Linked DNA regions of Homo sapiens. The protein of the gene in region 1 purifies or fractionates together with the protein of each later gene. This does not show direct contact. Each region holds a gene or a part of one and is shown in the gene's direction. Other genes may lie near its edges.

Region 1 (7,024 bases):
TTCAGGGTGGAGCAGCTTGGGCCTCCTTCCCGTGCTGAATGTCTCGGCCCACCCCCGCTCTGTCCCGAGTCACAGGGTTCTCGTTCAGAACCAACCAGGAGCATCTTCTCCCCGTAGAAAACCCAGAAAGACTCATCAGCCGCCTGGCCACCCAGAGGCACCTGACGGTGGGCGAGGAGTGGTCCCAGGACCTGCACAGCAGCGGCCGCACGGACCTCAAGTACTCCTACCGCTTCGTGTGTGACGAACACTACTACGGAGAGGGCTGCTCCGTTTTCTGCCGTCCCCGGGACGATGCCTTCGGCCACTTCACCTGTGGGGAGCGTGGGGAGAAAGTGTGCAACCCTGGCTGGAAAGGGCCCTACTGCACAGAGCGTGAGTCTCTGGGAAGGCACCGCTGGCTCACTCGTCCACGAACACGGACCGCGCGCAGGGACGGGGCTTCCTGAGCCACGGGGGGCTTGGGACTGTAGAGATGTTCTGGTGGGGAAACTGAGGCCCAGAGGACAGAAGTGGATTGCTATAAGTCACAGCTCGTCAGTGGGGGGGTTGGGGTCAACGCAGACATTTTAACATCCCAGGCTGTGTTTATCCACTATCGGAACTGCCTTTCTTAATCAGGGAGGATTTTAGAGACAGGGCCAGGGGTCAGGAAGTAAAGCCAGTGCTACCCCCAGGGTGTGTGTATTAGAGAGGGAGAGGAGGAAGGAAGGGAGGAACACAGAGAGAGCTTGTGTGTCAGGGGCACCATTTCAACCCGAGTTCCCAGTGCTGGAACAGCATCACACTGGGAAACGTTCCATTTTCTCTCTGGAGCTGGTGTGCTTGACCTCTCTGGAGCAAACGCCTTTCCGGATACTCCCTGTGACACGCACTGTCTATGCTGGCCAGAGAGCAGGCTTTCACTCCTGTGGGCTGCTGAGGCCAGGTCTCCAAGGCCTGTGTGGGCGAGGGGTGCACAGCCCCGTCTGGCTTGAATGCTCAGGCAGCACCTTGTCTGGAGAAGCAATGTCTTCCCAATAGTGACAGAGGCTCTACCTGCCTCTTATTAGGTATTGATGTGTCAATGTCATGGCAGGCAGGTGACTAGGGCAGGGTTGGGGCCGTGCTGGCTCCTGGTTCTGGCTCATGGGGACCTCAGGAGCCCTCTCTCCAGCTGACTGAGGCCTCGCCTGCACGCCTGGCCGTCCCAGCCCATTGGTACCGGATTTCTCTACAGCTGGGGATTGGGTAGGTCCTGGAGCTGCCCAGAAACTCCAGGGAACTGTCATTCTCCTTCCTTGGAACTGGACAACCTTGGAGAGGGGCTCTGGGAGGCCCAGAACCTCTGGCAGGAGCTGGGTAGTGCCTGGGGTTGAGGGTGGGTCTTCCCATTCACTGAGTGCCTTGATGTCCTTGCTCCTTAGCTTCCCAAATTCCCTCCGGAACTTACTGAGCTCCTTCTAAGCTTTGCCTTGGCCTGAACTGGTTCTGGGGAAAAACAAAAAAACAAAAAACAACTTGTGGAGCTGCTTGTTAATGAGTTTCATAACCAGGCAGCAAGAGCCAGCTCCAAGCCTCAAGCCCACTGTCTACTCCCTGCCCTGCGGGAGCCTCTGGCCAGTCTGCTGCCTCCCACCCTTCCTCCCTGCCTCTCTTCACCACAGGGTAGCCAGAAACTTAAACTTTTTTCTTCAAACACTGAAGTCTCTCCCCGCCCCCAGCTCGCGCGTGCCATAGATTAGATCTCTCCGGGGATAGGCGCAGGGACACCCGCCGGCTCCCATTGGCGGAAGGGGTGCGTGTGCGTGTGTGTGTGTGTGTGTGTGTGTACACGCGAGGGGTGTGTGTGAGGAGGTGGGGCCGGGGGCGCGGGGGAGGCCGGCATTGTTGCGCTGGGGCAGCTGCCGTGGAGGACAGACAATGGAGCAGCTGTCCTGCCCTGGCACCCTGCATACCAGCTGTCCACTCTTATCTGCACACACACTTTCTGGGATATTAAGAGGTGGAGCTTTGTGCACAGAATTGGGAAGTGGGGGAGGAGGAGGGGGAAGACTTCTGACCCTCTCTTAGAAGAAAAGGGGATAGGGTGGGGGTGGGGGCTTCCGAGAGCCCTTTTGTCCTTGAGCCCCTGTGTTAAGAAGAATGCTCATCCCCAGGGCTGAGTCAAGTCCCAGGCTACTAGGCAGGGGGGTCAGTCCTCCACAACCTGGGAAGATTAACTCAGCTGGGATTTGCTGACTGAAGCCGGCGAGTTGTGTCCTGGCCCCAAGGGCGGCAGCCCTGTTGGGACGTACTTGGCGTGGGGCTTGACCCTGTTTTTCCTTTGCTTGTAGCGATCTGCCTGCCTGGATGTGATGAGCAGCATGGATTTTGTGACAAACCAGGGGAATGCAAGTAAGTCTGCACAAGGTGGTGTTTTGTTTTGTTGCCTTTTCTTGTTATCTTTTCACAGCTGGTGTATTTGTAAAAACAGCCCTAGGTGATCATTCGAAAAACTCCAGTAAGATTGATTGAACAGGGGGCCGTTTTCTCATGTTTCTACTTAATCAATGTTTGGCAGCATGTAAGGTCATGGAGTTGTCATTCGTCTAAGCCCCTTAACGGCTATGAGAATTTACAGATAGTAGTTTAAAAAGAGTTGGCACAGGAAATGATAGTATAGTTCAATGGTTCTCAAATGTTGCCTCATCCTAGAATCACTCAGGGAGTGATTTTTGAGATGCTGACACTGGTGCTGCCCTAACACCCAAGAAGCCAGAACCTCTGGTGGGGCCCAGGCCCAGGCTGCAGCTCCCAAGGTGACCCAGTGTTCTGCTAATCTGGAGAACCAGAGGCTCACTGGTGCTGCGGGAAGATGGTTTCTAGGGTGAGAATGTCCACTGCAAAGCCAGCAACAGTCAACGTCCATCTGAGTCTTCTGCTTTTCTCCAAGGTGCAGAGTGGGCTGGCAGGGCCGGTACTGTGACGAGTGTATCCGCTATCCAGGCTGTCTCCATGGCACCTGCCAGCAGCCCTGGCAGTGCAACTGCCAGGAAGGCTGGGGGGGCCTTTTCTGCAACCAGGGTAAGCCTTCTCTCCCTGAGGCAGCCTGCTCCCTCCAGAGCAGCCCTGGACTTCCCTGGCTGTTTGATCACTGGAAAAATAAAGTCTTCCTGCATTTGATGTCGAGCTTCCTATCTCCTACTTTTCCTGTCCCCACCCTTCACAGACCTGAACTACTGCACACACCATAAGCCCTGCAAGAATGGAGCCACCTGCACCAACACGGGCCAGGGGAGCTACACTTGCTCTTGCCGGCCTGGGTACACAGGTGCCACCTGCGAGCTGGGGATTGACGAGTGTGACCCCAGCCCTTGTAAGAACGGAGGGAGCTGCACGGTGAGTCGGAGGCTCCATGGCATCTCACCCGGAAGCTGGGGTGCCCTGGTGTTGAATGGAGTGTGTGGGCTCCTTGGAGCAACTTTGGAAAGCCTTTTCTGACCTCTCCATCGTGTAGGATCTCGAGAACAGCTACTCCTGTACCTGCCCACCCGGCTTCTACGGCAAAATCTGTGAATTGAGTGCCATGACCTGTGCGGACGGCCCTTGCTTTAACGGGGGTCGGTGCTCAGACAGCCCCGATGGAGGGTACAGCTGCCGCTGCCCCGTGGGCTACTCCGGCTTCAACTGTGAGAAGAAAATTGACTACTGCAGCTCTTCACCCTGTTCTAATGGTAAGGGGGCAGCTGGTGATTGCTCAGAGACTCGGGCGAGCGGTCAATACTGAGGTGGCATTAAAAACAAGCATTTGTGAGTGACCTCGAGTTTATGAATCACTTTTATCCAGACCGCCAGGAATTCTCGATGGAAACTCTATCTTTGAGTCTGGAAAGGCCTGGGGAATGAGAGAGGCCAGGGCATTTGTTATGAAGTTCTCTGTGGAAACCTAGACCAAGCAGTGAATGACTTGCTCAGGGCCACAAGGTGCTTCGGGCACCTGCGGCCGCCTGAGGTTCAGTAAGTGATGCCCACAGGTGCCGGCCACTCCAGCTTGGGAGGATGGCCCAGCTGTGTGGCCACCCAGCACAGTAGTTGGGGGTGTCCCTGAGTGAGGACAGAGAGCCTCCTGCTAGCAGCGAGGGGCTGGCTGCCCAAAGGAGACACACAGCAAGGAGAGCTGGGCCCCAGATGTGCCGGAGCATTCCGGAATGGTCATCCTTCCCCTCCCTCCCTCCCCTGTTGTCAGTGCCTGCTCCTCTCACTTGCTGTGTAACTGTGGGCAAGGACACCCTCGTTAAGCCTCAGTTTCCCCATCTGAAACCTGGGTCGAGTGGCACATGCTCTTGCCCGGCTGTTGTGGCGACTAATGCAGCCACCAGAGTGTTCTGCACAGCGCCTGTCCAGATGCTGGCCGTGTGGTTTCTGACTTGTAGAGCTAGACCTGGACACCTCTCGTATTTGAGGTCCTAAACCATGTCACCTTGCGCTGTGGACTCATTCAGGCCACAGACTGTCTTTGGTTTGTCTGGTTTCTACAGTGTCAGACAGATAGATGCTTCAGAGTGACTTTTTGGTGAACAAACCTACGAGGAGACACGTGATGTTCATGTCCCTGTGTTCCAGGTGCCAAGTGTGTGGACCTCGGTGATGCCTACCTGTGCCGCTGCCAGGCCGGCTTCTCGGGGAGGCACTGTGACGACAACGTGGACGACTGCGCCTCCTCCCCGTGCGCCAACGGGGGCACCTGCCGGGATGGCGTGAACGACTTCTCCTGCACCTGCCCGCCTGGCTACACGGGCAGGAACTGCAGTGCCCCCGTCAGCAGGTGCGAGCACGCACCCTGCCACAATGGGGCCACCTGCCACGAGAGGGGCCACCGCTATGTGTGCGAGTGTGCCCGAGGCTACGGGGGTCCCAACTGCCAGTTCCTGCTCCCCGAGCTGCCCCCGGGCCCAGCGGTGGTGGACCTCACTGAGAAGCTAGAGGGCCAGGGCGGGCCATTCCCCTGGGTGGCCGTGTGCGCCGGGGTCATCCTTGTCCTCATGCTGCTGCTGGGCTGTGCCGCTGTGGTGGTCTGCGTCCGGCTGAGGCTGCAGAAGCACCGGCCCCCAGCCGACCCCTGCCGGGGGGAGACGGAGACCATGAACAACCTGGCCAACTGCCAGCGTGAGAAGGACATCTCAGTCAGCATCATCGGGGCCACGCAGATCAAGAACACCAACAAGAAGGCGGACTTCCACGGGGACCACAGCGCCGACAAGAATGGCTTCAAGGCCCGCTACCCAGCGGTGGACTATAACCTCGTGCAGGACCTCAAGGGTGACGACACCGCCGTCAGGGACGCGCACAGCAAGCGTGACACCAAGTGCCAGCCCCAGGGCTCCTCAGGGGAGGAGAAGGGGACCCCGACCACACTCAGGGGGTGCGTGCTGCGGGCCGGGCATCAGGAGGGGGTACCTGGGGGGTGTCTTCCTGGAACCACTGCTCCGTTTCTCTTCCCAAATGTTCTCATGCATTCATTGTGGATTTTCTCTATTTTCCTTTTAGTGGAGAAGCATCTGAAAGAAAAAGGCCGGACTCGGGCTGTTCAACTTCAAAAGACACCAAGTACCAGTCGGTGTACGTCATATCCGAGGAGAAGGATGAGTGCGTCATAGCAACTGAGGTCAGTGCAGGCAGCAGCCGCTCCCTCCTCCTCGGCATGGGAGCACCTGAAGCTGGAGCACGGGAATCGGTCTCAGGCTAACTTCCCATTTGTCTTGTGGCCCCCCAGGTGTAAAATGGAAGTGAGATGGCAAGACTCCCGTTTCTCTTAAAATAAGTAAAATTCCAAGGATATATGCCCCAACGAATGCTGCTGAAGAGGAGGGAGGCCTCGTGGACTGCTGCTGAGAAACCGAGTTCAGACCGAGCAGGTTCTCCTCCTGAGGTCCTCGACGCCTGCCGACAGCCTGTCGCGGCCCGGCCGCCTGCGGCACTGCCTTCCGTGACGTCGCCGTTGCACTATGGACAGTTGCTCTTAAGAGAATATATATTTAAATGGGTGAACTGAATTACGCATAAGAAGCATGCACTGCCTGAGTGTATATTTTGGATTCTTATGAGCCAGTCTTTTCTTGAATTAGAAACACAAACACTGCCTTTATTGTCCTTTTTGATACGAAGATGTGCTTTTTCTAGATGGAAAAGATGTGTGTTATTTTTTGGATTTGTAAAAATATTTTTCATGATATCTGTAAAGCTTGAGTATTTTGTGATGTTCGTTTTTTATAATTTAAATTTTGGTAAATATGTACAAAGGCACTTCGGGTCTATGTGACTATATTTTTTTGTATATAAATGTATTTATGGAATATTGTGCAAATGTTATTTGAGTTTTTTACTGTTTTGTTAATGAAGAAATTCCTTTTTAAAATATTTTTCCAAAATAAATTTTATGAATGACAACCAGAAGGCGTAGTTACTTGGCTTTGCCTTAGAGCGGAGGTGTGCTCACTCACCTGCGGCCCGCGAGGCTGAGGGCAGAGGTGGCCTTGGTGTTTCTCTTTTCAAGGCTTTGGTTTCCCTGGATCCATGAGAAGCAGCCCGTTCCTCTCCTCCCTCAGGAAGCTGCTTGCTGGCCATCATGAGGTGACTTGGTAAGAGCAGGCACGCGCATGAAGCAGCCGCGATTTTCTAATTCCATCCCCCCATGCATTTATTAGTTCTTTCCGCAGAAAGAATGAGCGTTCCTCATTCATTCATTCATTCATTCATTCATTCATTCATTCATGTCAGTGTAGACTTGTGAGTTATTTTGTACCCAGTGGGTCACAGCTGTCATGATTTTGTCGCCGTTTGACGCCAACATGGCCCCAGACGGGGCGTGGGAGTCACGGAAGCTGCTCCTCCGCTTCCCGTCGGTGGGCAGCCCCGTCTCTAAGCGCGTCCCGCCTGCTGGCTCAGCAGGACCGCACGGGCTCCCTGTGGGCTGACCCCTCATTTGCCGCTTTGCCCCCCGCTAAGCCCGGGTTCCTTATGGTAGTGATTGCATTTTTAACTTGCGCGTACCTCAAAGCGCTGA
Region 2 (7,651 bases), on another chromosome or scaffold:
AAATAGAAATTATAACCACAACCAGTTACTACAATTGCCCACTTAGAATGACTAAAATTAAAAGACCAATAAAACCAAGTATTGGTTAGGATGTGGAACAATTAGAATTTGTATACATTGCTGGTGTTTTTTTTTTAAAGCAGGCACTTTGAAAAACAAATTGGTGGTTTCTTACAAAGTTTGACATATATTTATCATGTGACTCAGCTATCCCACTTCTAGGTATGTACCCAAGAGAACATAGGACACCTTTCCAAGCAAATACTTGTACTAAATGTTTGTAGCAGCTATTATTAGCCCCATACTGGAAGCGAAGCCAAATGTTCAGGTAGTGCTGGGATAAACAAATTGTGCAAATTGTGGTGCACCTATGCAATGAATACTACTTAGTGAAATGTCAATGATGGAAAAGCTCAGGAAACTTAAAGAAAAATCCCCATTGTGCACATTTATGTGAGAAATAGACATGATAAAGAATTAAGCTGACACTCGGAAGGCTAAGGCAGGAGTATTCCTTAAGCCCAGGAGTTTGAGGCTGCAGTGAGCTATGTGCCACTGCACTCCAGCCTGGGTGACAGAGTGAGACCCTATCTCAAAAAAAAAAAAAAAAAAAAAAAAAAAGAAGAAAAGAAGCTGAGATCAGGTACCTTCTGACCACACTTCAAAGAAACATAATAAAAACAAATGAGAAATTCCCATCTTGAAGAATATGACATAACATTACCAAAGTTTCAGCTCTGCATACCCCGCCAGTATCAAGAGTTGTAACCAGAGGGCATGCATGGTTCTAAGACCTAAACGAAATGATCGGTTTATCTTTTGAATCTTTAGCTCTTTTCTTGATCTCATTTTAAAAAATTTTTAAATTATGCTAGACATTTGCTAGGCATTTTCATATGTTATTTTACTTAATCTTCACATTAGCCCTGTGAAATAGGTTTTAACTGTCACCATTTTGGAGCTGAGGAAGTAGATGATGGAGTTTTGACCTAGGTCCCCTGACTCCCAAGTGCACTTATTTTGCTCCTCAGTCTCTTTCTTCATTAGGGTTCAGCTGTTCTCATACGGTTCTTCAGCTGCCCTAGGTTCTTGGGTAGGATTTTCTGCTTACTTTAATGCATAATTTTATGTACGAATTAAGCATTACCTTCTCACCTAAAGCAAACTTTCTTTTCACAGAGTGAGGAAGAGCTCAAATATGCAGCAAGGGGAAGTGAACTTATTAGGTCATTAAAGTAAATCTAAATCCAGTATGAAGACTCATTATTATAACTTTTCAGGAAATATTTAGAGTTCTAAGGAGTTGATTATCTCCATTGCTTTATAGTGGAGATTGAAAGAGATCTGTCTTTGAACTCTACTGTGCTTTGTCCTTTTTAACTGTTCTTGGGTGGAATTACCATAATAAAAATGATTTTTAAAACTTGCTGTTTTACTTCAGAAAGTTTGTTGCCCCATCCATTTTTTTCTACTTTAACAGCAACTGTTACCATATGAGAATAACATTGCAGCAGCTGAAGGAGAAAGTAGCCAGCAGTGTTCGGTGTTATTTATTCCTTATGAGTAGTTATAGTTTTCATGTTCTTTACTGTTGTCAAATTTTAACCATTTAACATTTGTTCTTCTCGTTCAGGGTAATGCAAACCTGGATATCCAGAATGTGAACCAACAAACTGCCCTACACCTTGCTGTTGAACGACAGCATACCCAGATTGTTAGGGTAAAGTATTGACATACATTTTAGCTTATAATTACATTTTAACCATACAGATTTTTAGAACTTCCTGAAAATTGAAATGATACAGTGTTACATGTCTCAAGCTGGCATAGTTAGATATAAGTAAATCTAAATATCTAAATACAATGTGATCTGCCAAGACAGATGAGACCATATGCTTGAGATTGGCTTCTATATATAGATGGTACTTTTCTAAAGCTCTTCAGTAAGTATCGTAGAAGGGATTAGGAAAATTGTTAAAGCACCATAAGCAAAGTTTTAATAAACTTATATTTACTGCTTAAGTAATCTATTGAAATATGTCAACTGTGCATTTTTATTTAGGGGGTTGTAGTTTAGCAAACACTGTTCGTATTTATTGTTATTTGAAATTCCTCTTGATATCCTCCATGGCTTTCTTCATGACCATACATTTGGAGAAAATTGACCAAAAGAGAATGGAATCAATAATAACAGTTCCTTGTTTGTTTACATAATAGAAGAATTTTGAACATTATGATTTGGTCCTGGTGGAAGTGCTTAAAATATCTCAAGTCATACATCTAAAGTTGAAAAGAGAAATAAAGTCCTAAATATCCCTCCGTTATCATCATCTTAGAGTAGATGAATTAAGCAACATATTGATTCTCATATATTTTTATTTTCTCTAATTCAATATATTTAAATAACCAGAACACGTGACTCTTTGTAAGGAGCCACAGGGTTGGAGAAGAGTAGAAGGCAAAAGCATAAAAATGATTAGCTTTAGTGGTAACTTCTTCAGTAGGTCCAGGGTGTTCTCACCATTACTTTAGATATGTTGAAGTTTCTTATGGATGTGGACACTTTGCCAAAATGAGACATCTTTCTCTTTTAGCTTTTGGTCCGTGCAGGTGCCAAGCTTGATATTCAGGATAAGGATGGGGATACTCCTTTGCATGAAGCTCTAAGGCATCACACTTTGTCTCAGCTACGTCAGCTCCAAGATATGCAAGATGTGGGGAAGGTGGATGCTGCCTGGGAGCCATCCAAAAACACGGTGAGTAAAGATCATCTTTCATTCAGTACCAGTGGAAGAATCTTTTCATGCAAGATCTTATATTTACTGGTAATCTAACCTGTATTGGATAAAATATTTTATCAGAGCTATGTACTTAGAAACTTAGTTTATGAACTTAGTACTAGTCAGTACTAACTTATTGCTCCACATTTTTACCAAAAGTTGTTCAGTTCTGTTGTTGTTGTTGTTGTTATGTGGAGTCCCACTCTGTCACCCAGGCTGGAGTGCTTGGCTCACTGCAACCACCTGGGTTTAAGCCATTCTCTTGCCTCAACCTCCCAAGTAGCTGGGATTATAGGCGCCTGCACCACACCTAGCTAATTTTTGTATTTTTAGTAGAGACGGAGTTTCACCATGTTGGTCAGGCTGGTCTCGAACTCCTGACCTCAGGTGATCCACCCGCCTCGGTCTCCCACAGTGCTGGGATTACAGGCCTGAGCCACTGCGCCCAGCCATTCAGTTCTTTTTTAACATCAGCCATTCAAATAGATACGTAGTGGTATCTTATTGTGGTTTAATTTGCATTTTCCTAATGACTATTGATATTGAGCATCTTTTCATTTGTCTGTCACCATATGTATTTTATGAAGTGTCTGCTCAAATCTTTTGTTCATTATTTTGTTAGGCTGTTTGTTTTCTTACTACTGAGTTTTGAGAGTTCTTTATGTAATCGGAATACAAGTTCTTTATATGTGAATGCACATATTTTCTCCCAGTTGGTAGGAGATTTGTCTTTTCATTCTTTTTTTTTTTTGAGATGGAGTCTCGCTCTGTCGCCCAGGCTGGAGTGCAGTGGCACAATCTTGGCTCACTGCAACCTCCGCCTCCTGGGTTCAAGTAATTCTCCTGCCTCAGCCTCCCAAGTAGCTGGGACTACAGGTGCATGCCACCACGCCCAGCTAATTTTTTGTATTGTTTTTAGTGGAGACGGGGTTTCACCTTAGCCAGGGTGGTCTTGATCTCCTGACCTCGTGATCTGCCTGCCTCAGCCTCCCAAAGTGCTGGGATTACAGGCATGAGCCACCACACCCAGCCCTTTTCATTCTTCTAATAGTGATTTGGAAGAGTCAAATTTTTTAATTTTGAGGAAGTCTAATTTATCAAGTTTTTCTTTCATCATTTGTGTTTTTTGTGTGTGTTCTGTCTGAGATATCTTTGCCAAACCCAAGATCGCTAAGGTTTTCTTTTATGTTTTGTACTAGAAGTTTATAAAGTTTTAGCTGTTATGTTTAGGTCTATGATTCTTTTTGAGTTAATTTGTATATATTGTGTGACATATGGATCCAGGTTTATTTACTTGTGGATATCCAGTTGTTCCAGTGCCATTAGTTGAAAAGACTTTGTTTCTTTTCTTTTTTCTTTTTTTTGAGACAGAGTCTTGCACTGTTGCCTGGGCTGGAGTGCAATGGTGTGATCTTGGCACACTGCAACCTCTGCCTCCTGGGGTCACGCGATTCTCCTGCCTCAGCCTCCCAAGTAGCTGGCATTGCAGGTGCACACCACCACACCTGGCTAATTTTTTGTATTTTTAGTAGAGACAAGGTTTCACTATGTTGGCCAGACTGGTCCCGAACTCCTGACCTCATGATCCGTCTGCTTCAGCCTCCCAAAGTCCTGGGATTACAGGCATGAGCCACCACACTCGGCTGAAAAGACTTTCTTTTTCTACTGAATTGCCAGTATACTTTTATCCAAAATCAGTTAATTGTTTATGTGAAGGTCTCTTTCTGGATCATGTATTCTGTTCTGTTGGTCTATGTTTTTAGCTATTTGATACCAGCCCCCAGTCTTAATTACTGTCTACATAATACGTGTTGAAGTCAGGTAGTGTCAGTCCTCCAGTTTTCTTGTTTTTTCGAAGTTATTTGACTATTCTAAGTCCTTCACATTTCCATAAGAATTTTAAAATCATTTTTTAGAGGGTAAAAAGGTTCTGAGACCAAAGTGTTTGAGACCTCTGCCTTATTTATGACCATGGGTAAGTTCTCTTAGCTCGGTGTGCCTCTTTTTTTCTCATTTTAAAATGGGAAGAGGAGAGCACTTACCTCGATAAGGTTGTTGTAAAGATCATGGAAAGTGTGTAAAATAATACTTGATCCATTTTAGACACTCAATAAATGTTAACAGTTATTGTGACTATTTTCACATAAGATGATGAGAAGAATCTCAGATAATATTATCAGAACCTAATTTGTCTCATTCTCCGTATCTTGGCTCAATTCCTAGTCATTGGTTCTTTTCTCAGTTGTCTCTCCTGTCATTGTTTCAAGTTGGTTGCTAGCTGCTCCAGAGCCAAATTAATTAGGAAAGAGAGTACTGTTTCTTTAGTATCTCAATCAGAAGTTCCACTTTTGAGTTCTGTTGGGCTTAATTGACTTGATTTGTGTTATGTGTCCATCCCGGTTCTAGCCATATAGGTAAGGTAGAGGTATCTGACTGGTTTGGGCCATGTTTGGTCCACCTCTGCAGCTGGAGAATGTAGGTCCACCTCTACAACTGGAGAAAGCATACTTGTGTGTATGCTTGAGAAAACCAGGGGTAGAGTGGTGGGGAGGGAACATTAGGACTAGAACTCATAAGTGTCCACCACACACACATACATATATATGATGACAAGAATTGATGGCAGATTCCTAGAGGGAAAATCATGACTCTTTATTTTATTGCAGTTAATAATGGGACTTGGTACCCAGGGGGCAGAGAAGAAGAGTGCAGCATCTATTGCCTGTTTCTTGGCAGCCAATGGTGCTGACCTGAGCATTCGAAATAAGAAGGGTCAATCGCCACTTGATCTCTGTCCTGATCCGAATCTCTGCAAAGCACTGGCAAAGTGTCATAAGGAAAAAGTCAGGTTTGTATTATTTATTATCATAAAACTTAATATTCTGTACAGAAAATATCATGTGGTTTCGTAATGGAGGACGTGGCTACTTGAAAATGTCTTCATCTTTGCTCTTCCTGTATATTTGTGTTGACCCTTTCTTTCCTGAAATTTTTCTTCCTTGAAAATTTTTCTGCAGGCAGCATGTCTCTTATTTTATGCCATATTCCCCACATTATTGAGTGCAATGCTCTATACTTAATAAGTTCTGAGAAACTTTTCTAAACTAGTCTGATCTTCTAGTACTCCCATGTGTTAGAGGGATTTATGAGAAAAAGTCTTCTAGTAAAATTGCTGTTGTTAATGTTACATGTATTTTAAATTGTATTTATTTTTTATTGTATTATTATTATTTTTTAAAAATACGTCTTGCTGTGTTGCCCAGGTTGGGCTTAAACTCCTGGGCTCAAGCAATCCTCTTGCTTCATCCTCAGTAGCTGGGACTGTATGCATGTGCCACTGTGCCTGGCTCTATATTTAAAATTTAAATAGAATCTTCCTAAGACAGGCAACTTATACTCCATGAACAGGGTATATCTCACACAAACTGTAGCACCCTGCTCAGTGCCTGACAGGTGCACTCAGTATCAGTGGAGAATGAACAAATGAATGCACCAAGTCCTGGTGGAGTTTTCTCTAAAGATGATCATTTCACATTTGTCTCTTTTTCTGAAAGATATGTCAGTGATTTTAATTATTATTTATGACATAACTAATTTCCTTATGAGATTTTATAGATGTACAAAAAGGTACACATCTCATTGCTTTTTTAAATCTGAACAGTGCTGTGCAACTGTTGTTGCCCTTTGTACCTGGTTCTTGTCACTGAAATTTCAGTAGCTGTTCCTTAACCTTAGTGTTCCTTGCCTCTCTCATAATTTATGTGTAGTGATGAAATGTCATCTCTTTGGAATCTGTGCATAGAACTGTGTTATAGAGGAAATTAATATAGTGAGGTATATACATTTCTTTAAGTGTATTGTTAAGGAACATGAAATTCTATTACAAAAAGAGAATGCATCGGCCGGGCGTGGTGGCTCACACCTGTAATCTGAGCACTTTGGGAGGCCGAGGCAGGTGGATTGAGGTCAGGAGTTCAAGACCAGCCTGACTAACATGGTGAGACCCTGTCTCTACTAAAAATACAAAAACTAGCTGGGCGCATGCCTATAATCCCAGCTACTTGGGAGGCTGAGGCAGGAGAATTGCTTGAACCGGGAGGCGGAGGTTGCAGCAGTGAGCCGAGATCACACCACTGTACTCCAGCCTGGGCAACAAGAGCAAAATTCTGTCTCCAAAAAAAAAAATCTATAAATATAAAGATATAAGGCACTATAATTATTGCAGTAATAACTTTTAAACAATGGAGTCTAAGGTGGACCCTCTGTGTACGTGTTGTGTACGTGTTCGTGAGTTTCTGAAGATTGTGGTAGAAACAGGGCATCCCTTTTCTGTAGCTGTAGGTGGTCATATGTATTTCTGTTCCTTGTATCTGTGTTTACGGATGCAGTCTATCTTTCTGTAATATAATTTTATGTTCCTTAAGGATACACTTAAAAATGTCAAAACAGCAGCTGAAGTGTTAAATTTTCCAAAGTGCCCTATCTGTTGTGGACTCTGATGATGCTTTGTTCCGTCTTTAGTAAGGCAACTAACATGGGGGCTAGTGAGGATTTTTGTTTTATTCCTATGCCTTCCTCTGCTGGTTCTATATAGATACAACAGGTTCTGAGCAAAATTTTGTTTATGCTAAGTTTTTTTTTTAATTGCTGTTTTTTATTTCATTGTTAGAAGATTCACCCTTTTCCATTGGGTGAGTGAGTGTTCAGTTTGAAGTTTGAATTGTGTTAGAAGTATCTAAAGATGCAGAGACGCATATAAACACAAAAATTTAATGTTTCACATACAGATGTTAAAGCTTAATTTTTTAATATGACTAGTTTTTATGTATACTAATGATGCTCCAGGTATATTTTAAAACATTTTAATTAGT

Evidence for each region. The genes of interacting proteins can lie anywhere in the genome.
Region 2: the proteins of DLL1 (region 1) and MIB1 purify together in Homo sapiens (affinity purification with western blotting; 2 studies listed by BioGRID). This does not show direct contact.

The regions. Positions count from the first base shown.
Region 1 is NC_000006.12:170,281,590-170,288,613, reverse strand, and holds the end of DLL1 (delta-like protein 1 precursor), read left to right. Parts: intron 1-117; coding exon 118-375; intron 376-2,315; coding exon 2,316-2,376; intron 2,377-2,914; coding exon 2,915-3,045; intron 3,046-3,190; coding exon 3,191-3,360; intron 3,361-3,478; coding exon 3,479-3,695; intron 3,696-4,584; coding exon 4,585-5,383; intron 5,384-5,508; coding exon 5,509-5,626; intron 5,627-5,734; coding exon 5,735-5,740; 3' UTR 5,741-6,408; downstream 6,409-7,024. UniProt on the Homo sapiens protein: Transmembrane ligand protein of NOTCH1, NOTCH2 and NOTCH3 receptors that binds the extracellular domain (ECD) of Notch receptor in a cis and trans fashion manner.
Region 2 is NC_000018.10:21,841,498-21,849,148, forward strand, and holds part of MIB1 (E3 ubiquitin-protein ligase MIB1), read left to right. Parts: intron 1-1,633; coding exon 1,634-1,720; intron 1,721-2,594; coding exon 2,595-2,756; intron 2,757-5,446; coding exon 5,447-5,628; intron 5,629-7,651. UniProt on the Homo sapiens protein: E3 ubiquitin-protein ligase that mediates ubiquitination of Delta receptors, which act as ligands of Notch proteins.